Linked DNA regions of Homo sapiens: region 2 is linked to region 1. Evidence: fine-mapped expression QTL. Tissue or cell type: tibial nerve. Region 1 holds a variant in brackets; the other region holds the start of a gene. All regions are shown on one strand. Distances are from middle to middle.

The links. PIP is the estimated chance that this variant, and not a neighbour inherited with it, causes the effect.
Region 2: CD22 starts here. The variant in region 1 is fine-mapped to the expression of CD22 in tibial nerve (GTEx, PIP 0.93).

What each region holds. Positions count from the first base shown.
Region 1 is chr19:35,285,487-35,295,746 of GRCh38, reverse strand. MAG (myelin associated glycoprotein) reads right to left here and starts at 3,586. Exons shown (of 11, transcript NM_002361.4): 1 at 3,543-3,586; 2 at 1,457-1,512; 3 at 293-361; 4 at 1-134. The coding sequence starts at 338. The variant G/A (reference allele first, on the strand shown) is at 3,692.
Region 2 is chr19:35,322,720-35,333,504 of GRCh38, reverse strand. It overlaps CD22 (CD22 molecule), which reads right to left and starts at 4,318. Exons shown (of 14, transcript NM_001771.4): 1 at 4,275-4,318; 2 at 1,431-1,486; 3 at 581-958. The coding sequence starts at 1,464. RefSeq lists silencers at 1-200, 9,997-10,056 and enhancers at 2,392-2,441, 3,572-3,621, 3,692-3,741.

The DNA of each region.
Region 1 (10,260 bases):
GTACCAGACACCATGCACCACAGCGGGCCGCAGCTCATCCGGGAAGTCAAAGCGGCAGGGGATGGAGACGCACGTGCCTTCGAAGGCCGAGATGGACGAGGGCATCCAGGCACCCCAGTGACCCCCTCGGGAGGCTGCGGGCAAGCAGGAGAGCTGAGGCTCAGGGACACGTCCTACCCGATCACCCCCTCCGGCTCCCATCCCCAACCACATGCCGGGGGGCTGCGGGGACCCACCTCCAACCTGCTCAGGGGCCAAAGCCTTTAGGTCCCCAGCACCTGTCAGCCGTTACCTGAAATCATAATCCAGAACAGAGGCAGTGCCGTGAGGAATATCATTCTGTACAGCGAGTGAGTGATCGCTGGAAAGGGAGAGGAGAGGGTTAAAGGCTGGGGGAAGTGAAAGGGGGTGTTCCATCTGGGCTTCAGGAAGGGGCCCATTCATATGTTAGCTGCTGCTGCTATTATTATTTATTTATGCATTTATTTACTTATTTTTCTGAGACAGGGTCTTGTTTCATTGCCCGGGCTGGAATGCAGTGACACAATAACAGCTCACTATAGCCTCAAAATCCTGAGCTCGTGTTATCCTCTTGTCTCAGCTTCTGGTATGCGCCACCCCACACCCAGTTAATTTTTCTTCTTTTTTGTGGAAATGGTTGTGGAGGTGGGGTCTTACTATGTTGCCCAGGCTGGTCTTCAACTCCTGGCCTCCAGCAATATTCCTGCCTTGGCTTCCCAAAGGATTACAGGTGTAAATCACCATGCCTGGTCTGCTGATATTTTTTAACTTTTTACTTTTTGAGATGGGGTCTCAGCCCTGTCACCCAGCCTGGAATGCAGTGGTGCAATCGTGGCTCACTCAACTGCAGCTTCAATCTGCCAGGCTTAAGCGATCCTTCAGAGTAACTGGGACCTCAGGTACACACCACCATGCCTGGCTAATTTTATTTTAGTTTATTTATTTGGTTATTATTATTATTTTTTTTAGAGATGGGAGTCTTGCCATGTTCTGTGTTGCCCAGACTGGTCTTGAACTCCTTGGCTCAAGCGATCCTCCTGCCTCAGCCTCCCAAAGTGTTGGGATTACAGGCATGAGCCACCTCACCCAGCCTGCTGCTATTACTTATAATTATAAACCCTTCTATGGCATTGGCCATGTGCCAGCCCTCACTGCTTATTCTGCTGTCTTAACTCATTGGATCTCTTTGAGGAAGATGCATTATCCTCATTTTATAGCTGAGGTCCAGAGAGGTTAAGTGACTCGCCCAAGGCCACACAGTTGGTCTGCAGTCTTTGCTGCATGTCCTGTCTCTATGCAGTGATGATGTGCTGATCATTATCTTTGTCACCGTGATGCCCCTGGAGATCTCCAGAAAGTAAGAACCAGAGAGCCAAGGCAGGGCCAGCATTGCAAAGCTGAAGCAAGGGAAGAGAGTTGGTACCCTGCCCCTCACCTGAATCTCCCTGAGTTGGGGACGTCTTCTGGGTCCACCTGAAGCCGCCAGACAACCTGCATGCAACAAGAGTCACTCAGGTGCAAGGGGGCGGGATTGAGGCACCCAACCCACCCCCGCTTCAGTATCTCCTGCATGGGTTGTGACCTGTTGTCAGGCTGCCCATGTGGCCCTCCCATTGTGCCTGGGACCCTCCCACACAGCCTCGAAGCCACTCTCTGGCAACAACTCCCTCCAAGCTGGGGTGTCAGAGAACTGTGGGGAGGGAAGGGGGAACGACCGCATCGGGGTACGGGGGTGAGACTGAGGGGTGTGGCGAGTGGAGTGAGGGAGCAGATGTCCCACGGCCGGGGCCTGGGGGTGGCGGGCAGGGACCCAGAGCCATCAATGACTGGGTTTCACAGTATCAGCATTCCCGACATGCCGCGTGAATTCCTGCCGCCCTCTCCCACCCCACAGACGGCCCCTGGTGTCCGCACCCTCACCAGAAGCTGGTCCCCGGTACAAAAGAGTCCTGTTCCCTCGGGGAGAGGGTGTTTTAGCCTGCGGGGGGCTTTCAGGGTAAGTGGGGAGTAAGAAAGGGGTCAGGCACTCCTGGCTGGCCTTTGAGCAGGGCCAGGAAGGCCCAGGGTGGGGGCTAGCGAGCCCCTGGCACCCTGCTGCTCCATGGGTTGCCTTGGGGTTGCAGCCAGGGTTTCCAAGCAATTGCTTTTCCCAGCCTTCACCGCCCTCTTCCCACGGACAGAGACACATGCACAGACACATCCAATCGCGGGGATGAAATGTGACAGATGTAGCCCCAGCCAGAAGGGGCAGGCACACGCAGCGGAGACTCATACAGACACCCAGACAGGACCCTGAACACACAGACAGGCACAGGGACCCCTGTGCCCACAGGGATGGGCTGGCACTCACATAGTTCCCAAGGCGTGCATGCAATGCCTCTGCTGCTGTCCACACACACCTGGACAGACACAGCCCTGGCATTCAGCACACACACACACACACACACACAGCCCAGCATGCATGCCAGGCTAACAAAGATGCAAGGAACTGCACACACACACTGAGGATGGCTATAGACGCGTCCACTCAGACACGCGCCGATGGACACCTGGCCGACGCTGCCCTTGCACCTGTGACAGGAAGGTACAGGAGAGAGATGCAGATGAGGATGAGCACGTGCCCGGGCAGACATGAAACAAGCAGGTAGACCATGCACTCTTAACAGCGGGGAAAACAAGTTCTCGGGATGGGGGCCAAATCAACCTCAGCTATTACAGTGTGTGTGGCCACAGTCCATAAACATATGTACAGCAGATCTGTTGGATTAAAATGCCAAGGGAAGGATGGGATGAGGACAAATGCATCTAAAAAGTTTCTGTAGTTGGGGCCGGGCGCAGTGGCTCACGCCTGTAAACCCAGCACTTTGGAAGGCCAAGTTGGGAGAATCTCTTGTGCCCAGAAGTTTGAGACCAGCCTGGGCAATATAGTGAGAGTCCCGTCTCTTAAAAAAAAAAAAGTAACGAAAAATAAAAAGTGTCCTTAGTGGGGATTAATGAAGAAAAGTCGACTGAGGCTTACAGAGGAAGGTGCATGGGCAGCCATGTGTGTGCACGCACACGCACACACACACACACACACACCTGCTATGTGCCCAGGTGCTAGAATGCAGTCACTAACAGCCCACTGCCCCCATCCACCTCCCAGATTGCAGCCTGCAGGTGTCTGATCACCTGGACATCCTTCCATTCTTCGGCCAGATGCAGACCTCCTCCACCCCATCTGCCCCGCACTCGGGAACCCCAAGGAAACCTCTCCTGCAAAATCTTCACCCACAAGGGGTGCTGAGGGGGGGCCCTTTGTTTTTTCTCTCTGTGGTTTCTTCCCAGAGCCCCATCGCTGCCCCAGCGATGGTCCGAGCCCATCCCCAAAGCAGCCCCAAGCCACACACTCCTGCATCCTAAATCAGTAGCGGTGCACAGCGATGCTCCCTCACCCAGAGCACCTGACCCTGCTCACGTCTGGGTGCCACTGCCCCGGTGCCCTGCTCCCCTTGCCCTGGCCTCCCTGCCACCATACTCACTTGGACTCAGTTGCTTCTGCACCTCTGCTCCGCCAGCCCAGCTCGCAGTCCCCTGCCTTCCAGGGTCTAGGCCCCCACTTGCCAGCCCCTCCCCTCCCCCTGGGTGCCAGGGGCCGCCTGCCTCCAGGGCCCAGCTCCTCCCTACCCCC[G/A]GGGGAGGGGGGCACAAAGGGGCCCTTGTCACCACGGGGCTCGGACTGGGCAGCCTGACGCCTGGGTTCTCCTAGCTCTTTCCTGGAGGGGTCGGGAGTGGCTGCCTTGCTCTCTCCCCATCTTCCATCCCTGTACACCCTGATTCTGGGTCCCGGGGGTGGGGGGGCAGTCTAATCTCTTTGGAAGTCCCAGGCTGAGGGACAGAGGCATTGTCCTCAGGGAATCTTGGTGGCAACATTAGGTGGGCAGCAGGAGGAGACAGGTCCTTTCCACCCTCAACGTCAGTGTCACCTCCTCTTGCCATCTGAAATGACCTTCCGTGTTCACCAACTCCTTTCATGAGAACGTGACCTCCACCAGGCCAGAAGCTTCGTCTTGGATATTCTCAATCCATCCTTGCTCGTAGACAAGCTCCTGGCAGGCAGTTGAGCTTAATAAACAGTGTGGGTGGTTGAATGTGTTCCCCAGAGCCCCAGGGCACCTTCAGACTCAAGGCCTGTGCACCTGCTGCTCATTCTTCCTGGAAAGCAGTCCCCACCCCATAGCACTCCCCACTCTGGCACTGGCTGCCGTTCACCCATCCTGTAGGCTCAGCAGCCTGGGTGCCGCTTCCCTGGGAAGCTTTCCCATCTTCGCCCATCAGCCAGGCCCCTCCATTGCAATGCTGTCCTTTCCTTCTGTAGCCTTGGCAGGCTGGCCCGTGTGCACCCTAGGTCTGCCCGCCTCTGCCTCCCACTAACCCAGGAGCTCTCAGAGGCAGGGGCTCACCAGAAACCTATCTGCCTCTCTGTCTGTCATGTGCACCCTTCTGTCCCCGGGGCAGTGCTTGGTGCACATAGGACTGTGCTGACCAAGTTGGGCAAGGACCCTCTGAGTGCAGATTCCACCCCTTGGTCATGACTTTTGCAAGGTGGGTGGGGGCTCGGGGCAGCTGGAGGTGGCGTGACAAAGTGCAGCAGTGATTTCACCATGAGCTGTTCAGCCTCACTGGGACATCTCCTGTCCTCCTTCAGGCCAGAGCAGTGGGGAGGGGGGGTCCTCGCTCTCAAGGGAGAACCCAGGGGGTGAGGGGCGGGGAAATCCCTCAGACCAGGGAGAGAAGCGTTGTGGGGCTGGGGGGGAGTTGGAGGGGGAGGGGGAGTCCCACCCCCACCCCAGGCTTCATGATGTCAGACTCTGCCCGTGCCTTTCCCAGTCCGGGACAAAGGACCATTGAGAGTCGGGCGGGGCTTGAATGCCTGGGTCCTGGAGAAGAGAGGGGCCTGGTGCCTGGGCTTTGGTGGTGGTGGTCGGGGTGACAAGGAGATCCTGGGGGGTATTTGCATGTCACAGCCTTCAGCATCAACACCCACCTAGTTGGAGCTGGAGTCGTGTGCTGGTGCAGTGTGGGGCTCCATCTCCTCCCTGGGTGTGAACTGAAGGCTGTTGCTGGGGAGAGGACAGTGTCCCACAGGAGCACTCGCAATAGTCGCTGACATCAGCAACTCGGGTCTCCAGGAGACCTGTGGGAGCGAGGCGGCTGGAGCCCATGAGAGGAAGGGGCTGGGTGACAGGACCTGTGACTGGCGGGCAGGTGCCCTGTCTAAGGGGACAACTGACCCGCAGATCCAGTGGCCGGTGCTGCCGTATCAGCTGATCTTTTACGAGAGAGCAGGTGTATCAGTTTTCCAGGGCTGTTACAACAAAGTTTCACAAACTGGGTGGCTTAAAAACCGGAATTGAGGCCATGCACGGTGGCTCACACCTGTACTCCCAGTGCTTTGGGAGGCCAAGGCGGGCAGATCACGAGGTCAGGAGATCGAGACCATCATGGCTAACACGGTGAAACCCTGTCTCTACTAAAAATACAAAAAATTAGCCGGGCATGGTGGCAGGCGCCTGTAGTCCCAGCTACTCAGGAGGCTGAGGCAGGAGAATGGCGTGAACCCGGGAGGCGGGGCTGGCAGTGAGCGGAGATTGCGCCACTGCACTCCAGGCTGGGCAACAGAGCAAGACTCCGACTCAAACAAACAAACAAACAAACAAACAAAAAACCCTGCCAGAATTGAGCTTGAATTCCAAGATCAACAAGATCAAGTGCTGGCAGTGTTGGTTCCTTCTGAGGGGTGTGAGGATCTGTTCCGGGCCTTTCTCTGTATGGCATCTTCATCTTCACATTCCCTTCCCCCTGTATTCACCCCTGCCCAGATTTGCCGTTTATTTATTTATTTATTTATTTATTTATTTATTTATTTATGTTTGAGACATAGTATTGCTTTGTCATTTAGGCTGGAATGCAGTGGTGCAATCATACCTTACTGCCACCTCCACCCTCCAGATTCAAGCGACTCTCTTGCTTCAGCCTCTCAATAGTAACTGGGACTACTGGCACTTTTTTTTTTTTTTTTTTTTTTGCTAGAGACAGGGTCTCACTATATTGCCCAGGCTGGTCTTGAATTCCTGATCTCAAGCAGTCCTCCTGTGTTGGCCTCCCAAACTGCTGGGATTACAGGTGTGAGTCACTGTACCCTGTCAGATTTAGGAAACCAGTTATATTGGATTAGGATTCTCCCGTCTCATTTTAACTTGATTACCTCTGTGAAGACCCTGCCTCCAACTAAGGTCACATTCTGAGCTACTAGGCGTTAGGACTTCAATGTGAGTTTTGAATTCCTAGCAGCAGGAATTCAGAATGAAGCTCTCGGCCATGGGGAGCTCTCACTTAAAGCTTAAAGCTCTCATAGATGGGAGCTGAGGCTCAATCCATCCAAGAGCCTTTGCTGCCCTCAGACAATGGTGTCAGCTTCACAACCAGTCCTCCACAGGACTGCAGCTTGCTCAAAATGCAAGGTCAAGGGCCCCGCCTTGCACCTGTGGAATCAGAAATTCTGGAGGCCCAGCTATCTGCAGTTTATTTGTTTATTTGTTTTACAGACATCGTCTCACTGTGTCACCCAGGCTGCAGTGCAGTGGTGCCATCATAGGTCACTGCAGCCTTGAATTCCTGGCCTCAAGTAATCCTCCCGTCTCAGCCTCGTAAACCACTGGGATTATAGGCATGCTCCACCACGCCCAGCCTCATCTGCATTTTATTTTTATTTATTTAATTTTTTTTGAGACAGAGTCTCATTCTGTCACCCAGGCTAGAGTGCAGTGGCAAGGTCTCAGCTCACCTCAGCTTCTGCCTCCCAGGTTCAAGCAATTCTCGTGCCTCAACCTCCCGAGTAGCTGGGACTACACGTGTGCACCACCACACCCAGCTAATTTTTGTATTTTTAGTAGAGACGGGCTTTCACCATGTTGGCCAGGCTGGTCTCGAACTCCTGGCTTCAAGTGATCCTCCAGCCTCAGCTTCCTAAAGTGCTGGGATTACAGGCTTGAGCCACTGAGCCTGGACCCATCTGCATTTTTGCAGGCCCTCCAGGAGATTTTGAGCACGCTGAAATTTGAGTATCTCTGCTTTACATGTTCTCCCATCTCTCTAGGACCACCCCAGAGAACTGCTTGCTCAGGAGAGAAGAGCACCCCGTGTCATTAAGTGTAATTCCTGATTTCAGGTTTCCCACCTGCCAGGAGGGAGGCCTCTACCCTCTCCTGTCAATATGAATCCTTTACATTGAGGAAGCATTGGACAGTTTCCAAAGCAATTTCACACTCATTCCCTTGGTTGAGCAGCTCTAGAGCCAGTTAAGCTAAGTCCTGTATGGACTTAGCTTCTGTTCCTTTTTTGTTTTTTTTTTTTTTTTTTGAGATGGAGTCTTGTTCTGTCACCCAGGCTGGAGTGCAGTGGCATGATCTTGGTTCACTGCAACCTCTGCTTCCTGGGTTCAAGCGATTCTCCTGCCTCAGCCTCCAGAGTAGCTGAGATTATAGGTGTGCGCCAACACGCCTGGCTAATTTTTGTATTTTCAGTAGAGACGGGGTTTCACCATGTTGGTCAGGCTGGTCTCAAACTCCTGACCTCAGGTGATCCACCCGCCTTGGCCTCCCAAAGTGCTGGGATTACAGCGTGAGCCACCACGCCCAGTGCCTCTGTTCTTTTAAAGGTAAGGAGAGGCCAGGCATGGTGGCTCACAACTGTAGTCCCAGCATTTTGGGAGGCTGAAGTGGGAGGATCATTTGAAGCCATGAGTTTGAGACCCGCCTGGGCAACACAGCCAGATCCACGTCTCTACACAAAATACAAAACTTTAGCGGGGCGTGGTGATAGGCACCTGCGGTCCCAGCTACTCAGGAGGCAGAGGTGGGAGGATCGCTTGAGCCCGGGAGATCAAGACTGCAGTGAGCCATGATCACACCACTGCACTTCAGCCTGGGCTATGGAGCAAGACCCAGACTAAAAAAATAAAATAAAAAATACAGATGAGGAGGTGGAGCTCCGGATATGAAGAAGATGCATGCAAGATGTTACAGCTAATAAGAGGCCAAGCTCACCACAACTCCCCTCTCCCTATCCCTTCAGTTTTCATTCAGGAAACCTCCCCTCCCAGAGGACAAGCCTCTGTGGATTCCAAAGCGAAGGCAGACATTGATGGTGCCCCAGACTGATCTGGCGCCCAGCTGGGCTTCGTTTGGCTCACAGAATGTTGATGTTAAAAGACAAATTGCTTTGCTCAGTTGCCAATACTGTCAAAGCAAGAAATCTCTAATAAAAATAGGAATTCCCACCTTCTCTTGACAAAATCAGAAGTTCTAGTCAGGTTTACCTGCCTTGGGTGTGGCAGCCGTGTCTTGGAGCCCTCTCCCGCCCAGCCTGGGCCTTCCCACTCCCTGCCCACACCCAACATTGAGGCCGAATGACCAATGCCCTTTACCATCAAGTGAGAGCTGTTGCTTCCTGGGAGCTAAGAAGACAGTGAAATAACAGCCCCTATGTCTGTTTCTATCAAATGTGGGCAGGCCAGGCCCACCTGTAATCACAGCATTTTGAGTGGCTGAGGCGGGTGGATCACTTGAGGTTAGGCGTTTAAGACCAGCTTGGCCAACACGGTGAAACCCTGTCTCTACTAAAAATATGAAAATTAGCCAGGCATGGTGGCGGGCGCCTGTAGTTCCAGCTACTCAGGAGGCCAAGGCAGGAGAACCGCTTGAAACTGGGAGGTGGAGTTTGCAGTGAGCTGAGATCGCGCCACTGCACTCCAGCCTGGGCGACAGAGTGAGACCCTGTCTCAAAAATAAATAAATAAACAGTAAAAATATTTTCCCAGTTTCAGTTTCTAATACATCAGGCAACTAGAGATATAGCCCACTTTATCAAGAGCTTTTTGGAGTCCTCAATAATTTCTCAGAATGTAAAGGGGTCCTAAGACCAAAAGGTGTGAGGCCCATGGCCTTCAGAGGCCATCCAGGTATAGCAGATGAGCGAGGTATGGGGGATTGTTACACAGGAGCATCTTAAGTTGTATTCTCTCAGGAAGGACACACTTTGCACGTGAAACATATAGGAATATAGTTCACCTCCACAAGGAACTGAGTTCCTGCCCATTCTTCTTTTTTTTTTTTTCTGGAGACAGGGTCTCACTCCGTCGCCCAGGCTGGAGTGCAGCAGTGTTGTCTTGGCTCACTGTAACCTCCACCTCCAGGGTTCAAGTGATTCTCCTGACTCAGCCTCCTGACTAGCTGGGATTACAGGCACATGCCACCATGCCTGGCTAATTTTTGTAGAGACGGTGTTTCACCATGTTGGCCAGGCTGGTCTTGAACTCCTGACCTCAAGTGATCTGCCTGCCTCAGCCACCCAAAGTGCTGTAGGCATGAATCACCACCCCTGGCCCCTCCCATTCTTGAAAGCTGTATTGCTCTCATTTTCGTTGCCCCATTTTTTTTTTTTTTGACACCAGGTCTTCTTCTGGAACTCCCAGTCTTAAATTATCCTCCTGCCTCAGCCTCCCGAGTAGCAGGGATGGTGCAACTGCACCGGGCTAGAAACTGGGACATTTAAAAGCGTGAGATACACCAGCACACAATCCATTAGCCATCTGGTGATGATGCCAACAGGTGTCGCAGAGCCTCCTGGAAACTCCATTGTATACTCATGAGAGAACCAGGGTGAAAAAGGCAAATAAACATCTTTGTAGGCCGGGCGTGGTGGCTCACACCTGTAATCTCAGCACTTTGGGAGACTGAGACGGGTGGATCACTTGAGGTCAGGAGTTCGAGACCAGCCTGGACAACATGGCAAAACCCCACCTCTACTAAAAATACAAAAATTAGCCAGGTGTGGTGGCACGTGCCTGTAGTCCCAGCTATTCAGGAGGCTGAGGCAGGGGAATCGCTTGAACCTGGGAGGTGGAGGTTGCAGTGAGCCAAGATCATGCCACTGCCCTCCAGCCTGGGTGACACAGAGAGACTCTGCCTCAAAAAAAAAAAAAAAAGAAAGAAAAAAAAGGAAAAAAAAAGGAAAAAAAAAGTCTTAGTAGTTTCCACCTTCAGGAGCCCTACAAAAGGAGTCCCTGGATCTTACTTTGAGAACCTTTATAGCAGTGTCCAATGTTTTGGCTTCCCTGGGCCACACTGGAAGAATTGTCTTGGGCCACACATAAAACACACTAACACTAATGACAGCTGATGAGAAAAAAAAAAATTGCGG
Region 2 (10,785 bases), 37 kb before region 1:
TTATAACACAGGCTCAGTTATGGCACTGCACATGTAGGGGTGGATTTGACCCATCAAACACAGGTCTGGGGCCTCTGCCCTAGGGAGTGTGGTTACTCCGTTCCACACCCAGTTTCCTCTATAGGGAGCTCTGAGCAGCCCTAAGTTTGGGGTGAGCGATGCAGCTTCAGACCCCAATGTCTGAAGGGGGCGGTCCAGCCTGGGGGAGAGCTGAGGCTGGTTACATGCAGACCCACCCCACTAAAGGAATGCGGTGCTTGGATGGTTCCAGTACTAAGGCCAAACACGAGTTTGTCACAAAAGCTGAAAAATACATGGTGAGAAAGAAAGAGGGAAAGATCAGGAGATCCGATAACTTTGGAATCCAGGTCCCAGAGGGGCAGGAACTGAGGGTCAGATGGGACATCCGAGGTCCCGCAGCTCTGTCTAGTGCTGCTGCATCGCCATCGTCATCCGCTGGCGTCCCCTGCCTGAGCTCTGCAGGAAGCTCGGTTTGTGAGCTCTGTGCCAGGAGTCAGGTATTTCCTGCCTCCCACTCACCCCTGCCCAGAGCAGAGGACCCGCTCCCCGAAGGCCTTACCAGAGACATTGAGGTGTATTCGTTCCATCCATTTCTCAGTCTTGGACTCCATCCTCAGCCCCAGCTGACCACTGTCATTGAGGTGCACCGGGTGGATACTCAGTGTGCAGTTCTTATTCTTGTCTCCCAGGAATTGCACCCTTTTCTGCTCAGAAGGAACCTTCCCATCCTTTGTGCTTTCATAGAGTCTTGTCCCATCAAACTTCGAGGTGTTCTTGTTATACTCAGGATTGTGGAACAGGATGAAGCTTTCCAGGTCACCATCTAGGGCTCTGTAGGTGCAGGGGATCCAGACGCAGGCCCCCTCCCAGGCGTAGAGGGTTTCAGGGTGCTCAAAAACCCATTTACTTGAGTCAGAGAAAGCCAAGTATTCTAGAACTCACCACAGTGATCAGAAAGCATTACTAAGGGGGCATGAGAGCCTTCTTTTAAAAGTTATTTTTTATTTTAAAATTTGTTTAATTTTTTATTCTTTTTAGAGATAGGGGTCTTGCTATGTTGTCCAAGCTGGCCTTGAACTCCTGACCTCAAGTGATCCTCCCACCTCAGCCTCACAAAGTGCTGAGATTTCAGGCATGAGCCACTGCACCCAGCAGAGAGCTTTCTAAAGACTAAAGAATTCCCTCTGAAGATAGTGGGAGAAATACAGAGATACACAAAGACAGCAGGATGCAATGAGAGAAGTGTATGTATATATGGGAAACATATATATTTGTATGTACATTTATCTATACACACCGCTGCCCCCACCCTACCCTATGTTGACGCCTCTCTGCCTGGGTCTTTCCTCCTCCTCCAGTGCCCACTGACATCCCAGAACCCCAGTACTAGCCCAGGCCACAGTCCTTACCCAGGAGCAGGAGCCAGGGGCCGAGGAGATGCATGGTGTCGTGTCTGGGTGCAAGCCTGAGCAGGGGAGAGTTTGTCTTTGAGCCATCTGGCCGCTTACTTCTTCCACGTGGCTTTTCTTGCTCACCCACTGAGCTCCGACCCTTCCCCTGGATCCGGGAGGACCGGGTCTGGTTGCATTATGGGGATGTGGCATTTGGGATGCTCACGGAGTTCTTTCTTTTTTTTTGAGACAGAGTCTTGCTCTGTCTCCCAGGCTAGAGTGCAGTGGTGTGATCTCCGCTCACTGCAACCTCTGCTTCCCAGGCTCAAGCGTTTCTCTGGCCTCAGCCCCCCAAGTAGCTGGGTAAAGGCAGGTGCCACCACGCCTGGCTGATTTTTGTATTTTCAGTAGAGATGGGGTTTCACCATGTTGGCCTGGCTGGTCTTGAACTCCTGATCTCAGGTGATCTGCCAGCCTTGGCCTCCCAAAGTGCTGGCACTACAGGTGTGAGCCACCACTCCTGGCCGGGAGTTTTTTCTGAGTGTGCTGCACCTCTCCTTCAAACTGAGAGCCCTGCGGGGGCAGCCTCTCTCTCTTCCCAGAACTCCTTCCTTTCTTCCTTCCTTCCTCCCTTGCTTGCTTTTTCCCATCCATCCATTCATCCATCTCTAATTTTATAAACTTCCTGCCTGGCTCACAGGCTTTGAGTGGCACCAGACCACTGAGTGCTTTGAATGCCAGGCCCCGGGTAACGTGGAGCTCTCTCTGGTGCTACTCATCAAGGATTATACTCAGGGACAGACATGGTCAAAACTTGGTTTGAAAGACCAGGTAAAAAGGAATTCTAAAACCAGTAACAAAGTATGGGTGAGCCAGGCGCAGTGGCTCACACCTGTAATCCCAATACTTTGGGATGCCAAGGCAGGCAGATCACTTGAGGTCAGGAGTTCAAGACCAGCCTGGCCAACATGGCAAAACCCCATCTTTACTCAAAATGCAAAAAATTAGCCAGGCGTGGTGGCGTACACCTGTAATCCCAGATACTCATGAGGCTGAGGCAGGAGAATTGCTTGAACCCGGGAAGTAGAAGTTGGAATGAGCCGAGATCATGCAACTGCACTCCAGCCTGGGCGACAGGGCAAGACCCTGTCTCAAAAAGATAAAAAATAAACTAAAAATGTACAGAGCTGGTCAAACAAAACCTATCTGTGGGTTAGGTTCTGCAACTGTTGCCCATCTTTCTTTCTTTCTCTGCAGTGAGCTTGTCCTCTACCATCCCTGACCTCTGCATAGAGTTATATTTACATAGAGTTAAATTTAAGTCCCAATTTACATGATCATGGCCCTCCGTGCTGGCCCCCGGGGACCCTGAAGGATGTGACAGCAGAGTGTGTCTCCGGTCTCAGCACCAACCCAAGCCCCTCCCACTCACCTGCCAACATTTCACACGCATCAATGTTCCTCTCTCTGTCTGTTTATCTCCTCGGGCCACATGGCTCATGCCAAAGGCTGCTGGGTATCTGTTCATGGGTGTGCGGAAAGCTAAGCTGCTTGCCGACAGCAGGAAGGGGGTCTGGCCTGGGCTAAGCATGAATTTGGGGTGCAGGGTCTGAAGCTGAGGCAGATTCCCCAGGCAGAGCTGACATCAGCCCCGCAGGTACTCATCATGTCACATGCAAAAAACATCTTCAAGGTCACATACACTTGAGAAAGGCAGGGTAAAAGAGTTAAGTAAGATTCTTTTTTTTTCTTTTGAGACAGAGTCTCATTCTTCTGTCGCCCAGGCTGAAGTGCAGTGGTGTGATCTCAGTTCACTGCATCCTCTGCCTCCAGGGTTCAAGTGATTCTCCTGCCTCAGCCTCCTGAGTAGCTGGGACTATAGGCATGTGCCACCACACCCGTCTGATTTGTTTGTTTGTTTGTTTGTTTTAGTAGAGATGGGGTTTCACCATGTTGGCCAGGCTGGTTTCAAACTCCTGACCTCAGGTGATCCCCCCAACTTGGCCTCCCAAAGTGCTGAGATGACAGGCGTGAGCCACCGCACCTGGCTTAAGTAAGATTCTTTACTGCAGGACTTTAAAAACCTTTCAGTAAACTCTATCTACACCATTAATCTCTAGACATGGGGATTAGAGTATAGTATAATACATTGTCCATACTTCTTTGGCCATGGGATCTATTTTACATGTTCCATAAAAAACTTAGCAGGGTTGCAGAGCCAGAGTTCTTTGAAATCCCCTTAAGGTTACCTAAGGGGTAACAAGGGCTGTGGCAAGGACTAGACTCCGTTCCCTGCAGCCAACACTTGCCTCCAGGAGCCGGGCCATTGTCCCTCCTCTGCCAGCACCCTCCAGCCACAACCTGCTCTGGGACGGGCTGGAGCATCCCAGCATGAGTGGGAGATGGGCGCCTCCAGAGCAGGACTGTGTGCTGCCTCAAGGAGCTCCAGGAGTCTCTGGAGCACAGGAGTAGGGCCCCAGGCCCGGGAATTGGAAGGCTGAGGGTGGGGTGGAGGTTAGGGACAGCAGTTATTATGCACAGAGGCTCAGGACAGGGCCATGCTGTCCAGACCTCCTCAGTCCAGGCCTGTTGAGGGCCTTGCAGAACCTTGGGGCTGACCTCCCTGGCTCCTTCTTCCCTCCTGGGCATCCAATAACCTACCCTACTCTCAGAAGACTCAGCAGGCCTGGCAAGGAGGATGCTCAAGACAGGGGTCTGTCTACAACCTGTTGTAACACCGGTAAGAGAGAGCCAGGGAGGTCCCCACTGTGTTCCCAGCTCTGGGAGGTATGCCTGGCCCATAACTGCTGTTCCGTAATAACTTGCTTGTTGAATGCAAAATAAAAGCAAAATGATTTTTACCTGTTTCCGCGTGTCTTCCCTCTTCAGGGACCCTGGCAGCATCTGAGAGCAAAAGGAGAAGTACAGTAAAGTCTCTGGTGACAGAGGTTTCCCCTCCATGGCCACACCCCCTGCTTCTCTATGGCTCTGAGGGGGACCAAGCAGCACCGTGATCTGGGGAGTGGGGAAAAGAGACGATTGAGGGGGATGCGGGCTCGGAGTCAGATTGGAAGACTCGAATACGTATGGGCAGTTCTTCCTTTCCGTGTATGGGTTTGCAATATCAGATCAGTTTCAGAATGGGCTCCTCCACAACTCCCCCTCTACCCAGCTCTCAGGAAATGCGAATGACTCAAGCCAAGCAGGAGAACTGCAGCCCGCTGAAAAAGGCACAGGCCTACCTGAAAGTATTTGTAGTTTAGTGACACCATCCAGTTATTACCATTTCCACTCTTTTCATCATAGGCATAAATGGTGGGGAATCTGACCACCTACACTGAAGCCCCCAAGGGTTGAGGGAGGAGCACATAGATATTGAGGAGGAAAAAGATATCTCGGCCGGGTGCGGTGGCTCATGCCTGGAATCCCAACACTTTGGGAGGCTGAGGCGGGTGGATCACTTGAGGTCAGGAATTCGAGACCAGCCTGGCGAACATGGTGAAATTCCGTCTCTACTAAAAATACAAAAAATTAGCTAAGTGTTTTGGCAGGCGCCTGTAGTCCCAGCTACTCAGGGGGCTGAGGCAGGAGAATCACTTGAGCCCAGGAGGCGGAGGCTGCAGTGAGAAGAGATCACACCACTGCAGTCCAGCCTGGGTGACAGAGTGAGACTCTGTCTCAAAAAAAAAAAAAGAAAGAAAGAAAGAAAGAAAGAAAAAGAAAAGATATCTTGTAGGACTGGGCATGGTGGCTCATGCCTGTAATCCTAGCGCTTTGGGTGGCCAAGGCGGGTGGATTGCCTGAGCTCAGGAGTTCAAGACCAGCTTGGGCAACATGGTAAAACCCCATCTCTACTAAAAAAAAAAAAAAAAAAAATCCAAAAATTAGCTGGGTGTGGTGGCGGGCGCCTGTGGTCCCAGCTACTCAGGAGGCTAAGGCAGGAGAATCACTTAAGCCCGAGAGGCTGAGGTTGCAGTGAGCAGATCGCGCTGTGGCACTCCAGCCTGGGTGACAGAGCCAGATCCTGTCTCAAAAAAACAAAAAAGATATCTTGTAGGAAGTGTTATTGAATGGAGAGTCTTTAGGCTGAAACCTCATCACCTTTATAATCCTGTAGCCAGCGAGTGTCTCAGGAGCAGAACAGACAGCATTGGAAGCCATGCACATCCTACAGATGAAGAGGGATGCGCTGAGAGGTCTTCACTCCAGCACCACTGCCCTCTATGGGCAGCTGGCCATAGGGAGGGAAACAGAGAGAGGGAAGAACACCTTCTTCCAAAAGCACCGATAGGGCTGGGTGTGGTGACTTATGCCTGTAATACGCTTTGGGAGAGCAAGGCAAGAGGATTGCTTAAGGCCAGAAGTTTGAGACCAACCTGAACAACACAGCAAAACTCTGTGGGGCTAGTCAACAAAAGCAAAAAATGAAAAGTAGCTGGGCATGGTGGCCCATGCCTGTGGTCCAAACTACTTGGGAGGCTGAGGCAGGAGGATCGCTTGAGCCTGGGAGTTCAAGGCTTCAGTCAGCCATGATAGCACCACTGCACTCCAGCCCAGGCAACAAAGTAAGACCTTGTCTCAGTAAATAATAAATAAATAAAATGAACAAAAAGCAGTGATGTTCTGGAAAGATGGAGTAGATGTATTTATTTATTCTGCCAAGTATAACTGAAAACCTTGAACGTGACAAGACAAGCATAAGAAGACTGAAAGATGGAGAGAAGCAGACTGGTTAGGAACCTCGGGACTTAAGGAATGGTGGTGAATTCCCTGGGATTTCTCTTTGCCTCATATATCTCAGGCTGAATACTGGAGAAGCCAACAACTGAAAATGCCAAGGGGCACAAACAAGAAAAAGTCCCAACAGAACAAGTTCTAGCAAAACTATGCTTTTCTAGCCAAAGAACGAGGAAAGGGGCATCCTAGAAAGACAGAGCTCTTTTAGTCCATACCTGCTCCGCTCCATCCAAGTTCCATCATCACCCTTGTCAGCAAAGGCCGGATGGAAAACCTAGACATTCACCTTCACCAGGCTGTAACAAAGAACCCTAGGCCACTCCCATACTCAGCCAGAGTGATGCTAGAGTTGGAGCTGGGACATTCCTCCCCACTGGGATCACCCTCCCCCGATGTGGTGTTGGTGGAAACCATGTGGGCAGCCTGGACATCCACTGCCACCCCAATGCAGAAATGAGGCATTCCACCCGGCCCCATTGGAGTAGTGTCAAAGGGGGCCTGGTGGAGAGTTGGGACTTTCGCCACCACTCAGTGGTAACAAGCACCCCCCTCTCTCTGCCACACACAGTGTCAGTGAAAGCCACATAGGGAGCAGTAATGAAGCATCCCTCCCACTCCCAGCCAGGGAGTTGTCATGGATTCCTAGTGGGGAACCTGAACTTCTACCCTTACCAAACAATAACATGGAGGCCTCATCTCTCCCAACCCCCCAGGTTCAGGAAAGGCTGGATGGAGAACCTGGACTTTTATCCCTGTCTGGAAGCAATCAGGCAGTGCCCTACTTTATTTCGCTGGAGCAGTATAAAGGGAAGCCCACTAAAACAAAATATTTAAAGAAGATCCAGAATCTTATAACACAGTGCCCAGAATATCCTGACTTCAATGGCAAATCACTTGTCATACTAGGAATCAGGCATTCTCAAACTGAATAACAAAAGATAATTAACAGACACAAACATCAAGACGACACAGATGTTAGAATTATCTGACAAAGATTTTGGAGCAGCCATCATAAAAGTGTTTCACTGAGAAATTATAAATGTGCTTGAAACAAATAAAATAATAAAAAGTATCAGCAAAGAAATAGAAAATATAAAGAAGAACCAAATGGAAACTTTAGAACTAAAAAATACAACTAAAAAATACAAGAGCTGAAATAAAAACCATAATGGATGGGCTCAATAGCAGAATGGAGAGTATAGAAGAAAGAAGCAGTGAAACAAAACGTATAACAATAGAAATTACCCATTCTGAACAATGGAAAGAAAATAGATGAAAGAAAATGGAACAAAGCCTCAAGGACATGAGTAACTATAATAAAAGAAGATCTAACATTTTGTCATTGAAGTCCCAGAAGGGGAGGAAAAGGAGGGTGGGCCTTAAAAAAATATTCCAAGAAGTAATGGCTGCAAATTATCTTCATTTGACAACACACACGCACAACATATGTCTACAGATTCAAGAAGCTGAGCGCATCACAAACAGGATAAACCCAAAGAAATTCATGCCAAGACACATCATAGTCAAACTTCTAAAAACAAGAGGCAGAGAAAATTCTCGAAAGCAACCACATAAAAATGCAAAAAATTAGCCAGTTGGGTGGTGCGTGCCTGTAGTCCCAGCTACTCAGGAGGCCAAGGCAGGAGGATCACTTGAACCTGGGAGGCGGAGGTTGCAGTGAGCTGAGATCCTGCCACTGCACTCCAGCCTGGGCAACAGAGCGAAACTCTGTCTTAATTAAAAAGTAAAATAAAATAAAAACAAAAAACCTCTGGAAGATAACATAGGAGAAAATCTGTGAGACTTAGAGCTTGATGAAGTGTTCTTAGACATGACACCAAAGGCATGATCCCTAAAAAAATCAATCCAACTTCATCAAAATTAATTTTTTTTTGCTCTGTAAAAGACCTAGTTAAGAGAATGAAAAGACAAATTACAGACTAAGAGAAAATATTTGCAAACCACATATCTGACAAAGGACTCCTATCTAGAACAAATATATAAAGAACTCTCAAATTCAACATAGAAACACTACATAAAAAAATCAAATCATCCAATTAGAAGACTGGCAAAAGATATAAAGAGAAATTTCACCCAAGGGGATATATGGATAGAAAATAATTATCTAAAAAGATATTCAACATCACTAGCCTTTAGACAGGTTAAGACCATGATGAGATATCACTACTAACATCTATAAGAACAGCTAAAATAAAAGATAGTATCAAATACTGGAAAGATGTATGGAAACTAAATCATTTATATATTGCTAGTGTGAATATAAAATTGTCCAGCCACTCTGGAAAAAAGTCTCAAAACAGTTCCTCCAAAGATTAAGCATAGAATTACCATACACTCCTGCATCTCCACTCTTACATATATAACCAAGAGAAATAAGAACATGTTCACCCAGAAACTTGAACACAAATGTTTACAGCAGCATTATTCATGAAAGCCAAAAAGCAGAAACAACCCACATGTCCATGAAGAGATGAATGAATAAAGAAAATATGGGAGACCTAAACAATAAAATATTATTTGATAATAAAAAGGAATGAAGTACTGATAGATACTACAACATGGATGAACTTTTTTTCGAGACCGAGTTTCACTTGTTGCCCAGGCTGGAGTGCAGTGGTGCCATCTCGGCTCACTGCAACCTCTGCCTCCCAGGTTCAAGCGATTCTCCTGCCTCAACCTTCTGAGTGACTGGGATTACAGGCATCCGCCACCACGCCCAGCTAATTATTCATATTGTTAGTAGAGACGGGGTTTTACCATGTTGGCCAGACTGGTCCTGAACTCCTGACCTCAGGTGATCCACCCGCCTTGGCCTCCCAAAGTGCTGGGATTACAGGCGTGAGCCACGGCGCCTGGATATGGATGAACTTTGAAAACATTAAGTGAAAGAAGCCAATCACAAAATGTCACATATTGTATGATTCCATTCACGTGAAATATTCAGAAAAGGCAAATCTGTAGAGACAGAAGTAGATGTAGCGGTTGCGTAGGGCTGGGGTGGGGTGGGAAAGGTAAGAGGAAATGAAGAGTGACTGCTAATGGATGTGAGATTATTTTGGGGTGATGAAATGTTCTAAAACTGGTTGTGGTGATGGTTGCATAATTCAGTGAATAGACCCAAAACCATTCAATTGGACATTTTACATGGGTGTGTTTTATGGTATGTGAATTATATCTCAGCAAAGCTGTTATATATGTAGTATATATGTAATATATAACAGCTTTACATACAGCTTTAACACACATATGTGTGCATATATGTGTGTGTATGTATATTGTGTGTGTGTGTGTACATATATATATATATAAAATAAAAATCAGGCTGGGCACGATGGCTCACACCTGTAATCCCAGCACTTTGGGAAGCAAAGTGGATCACCTGAGGTCAGGAGTTCAAGACCAGCCTGGCCAACATGGCAAAACCCCATCTCTACTAAAAATACAAAAATTAGCAGGCATGGTGGTGTGCGCCTATAATCCCAGCTGCTCAGGAAGCTGAGGCAGGAGAGTCACCTGAGCCCAGGAGGCGGAGGTTGCAGTGAGCTGAGATCCCACCACTGCACTCCAGCCTGGGCGACAGAGTGAGACTCTGTCTCTAAATAAATAAATAAATAAATAAATAAATAAATAAATAAATAAAAAACAGTCCAGTTAGAAAATAGGCAAAAGACATGATGACACCTTTCCCTGAAGAAGGTATATAGAAGGCAAATAAGCACATGAAAAGATGTCTCACATCACCAGCCATTAGTGAAATGCAAATTGAAACCCATGACAAGATACCGCTTTAGAACAGCTAAAATTAAATAACCAATAATGACAACACCAAACACTGGTGAGGATGCTGTGAACTTGAAACATTCACACACGACTGGTGGGGATGCAAAGTGGTCCAGCTACTCTGGAAAACAGTTTGCCGGTTTCCTGAAAAACTAAACAAAATATACCTACCAGATGACCCAGCAATTGCACTCCTGGGCATTTTATCCCTAAGAAATGAAAACGTATGTCCACATAAAAACCTGCACACAATTATTCACAGCAGCTTTGTTTGTAATAGCCAAAAACTGGAAACAGGCCAGGCACGGTGGCTCACGCCTGTAATCCCAGCACTTTGGGAGGCCGAGGTGGGCGATCACCTGAGGTCAGGAGTAATCTCAGCATTTTGCGAGGCCAAGGAGGGCAATCACCTGAGGTCAGGAGTTCGAGACCAGCCTGGCCAACATTGTGAAATCCTGTCTCTATTAAAAATACAAAATGAGCTGGTCGTGGCGGTACATGCTGGTAATCCCAGTGTAAATAGTAAAGTAGAAGTTCCTTTTCAAAGAGACTGTCCTCCCCATCTAATTAAGAATAAATAGTAACTTCTCTTAGAAGCAAAATTTATTCAAAGACCTGTGCTAACATTCTTAAATATCTACTAGCCATAATAAAAAAATCAATGTACTTTATGTTCTTAGATCCTACAATTTAGCCTAAAGATTTGCCCTAGCATGCTTATACTAGTCCAAGAAAGCATTAAGTCAAAGCCTGTTCCTCTTCCTTATTTAGAAATGTTTTTACTTTTCTCAGTATTCCACGTTACTTTCTCCTTCCTTTGTTCTCCTCTGCCTTT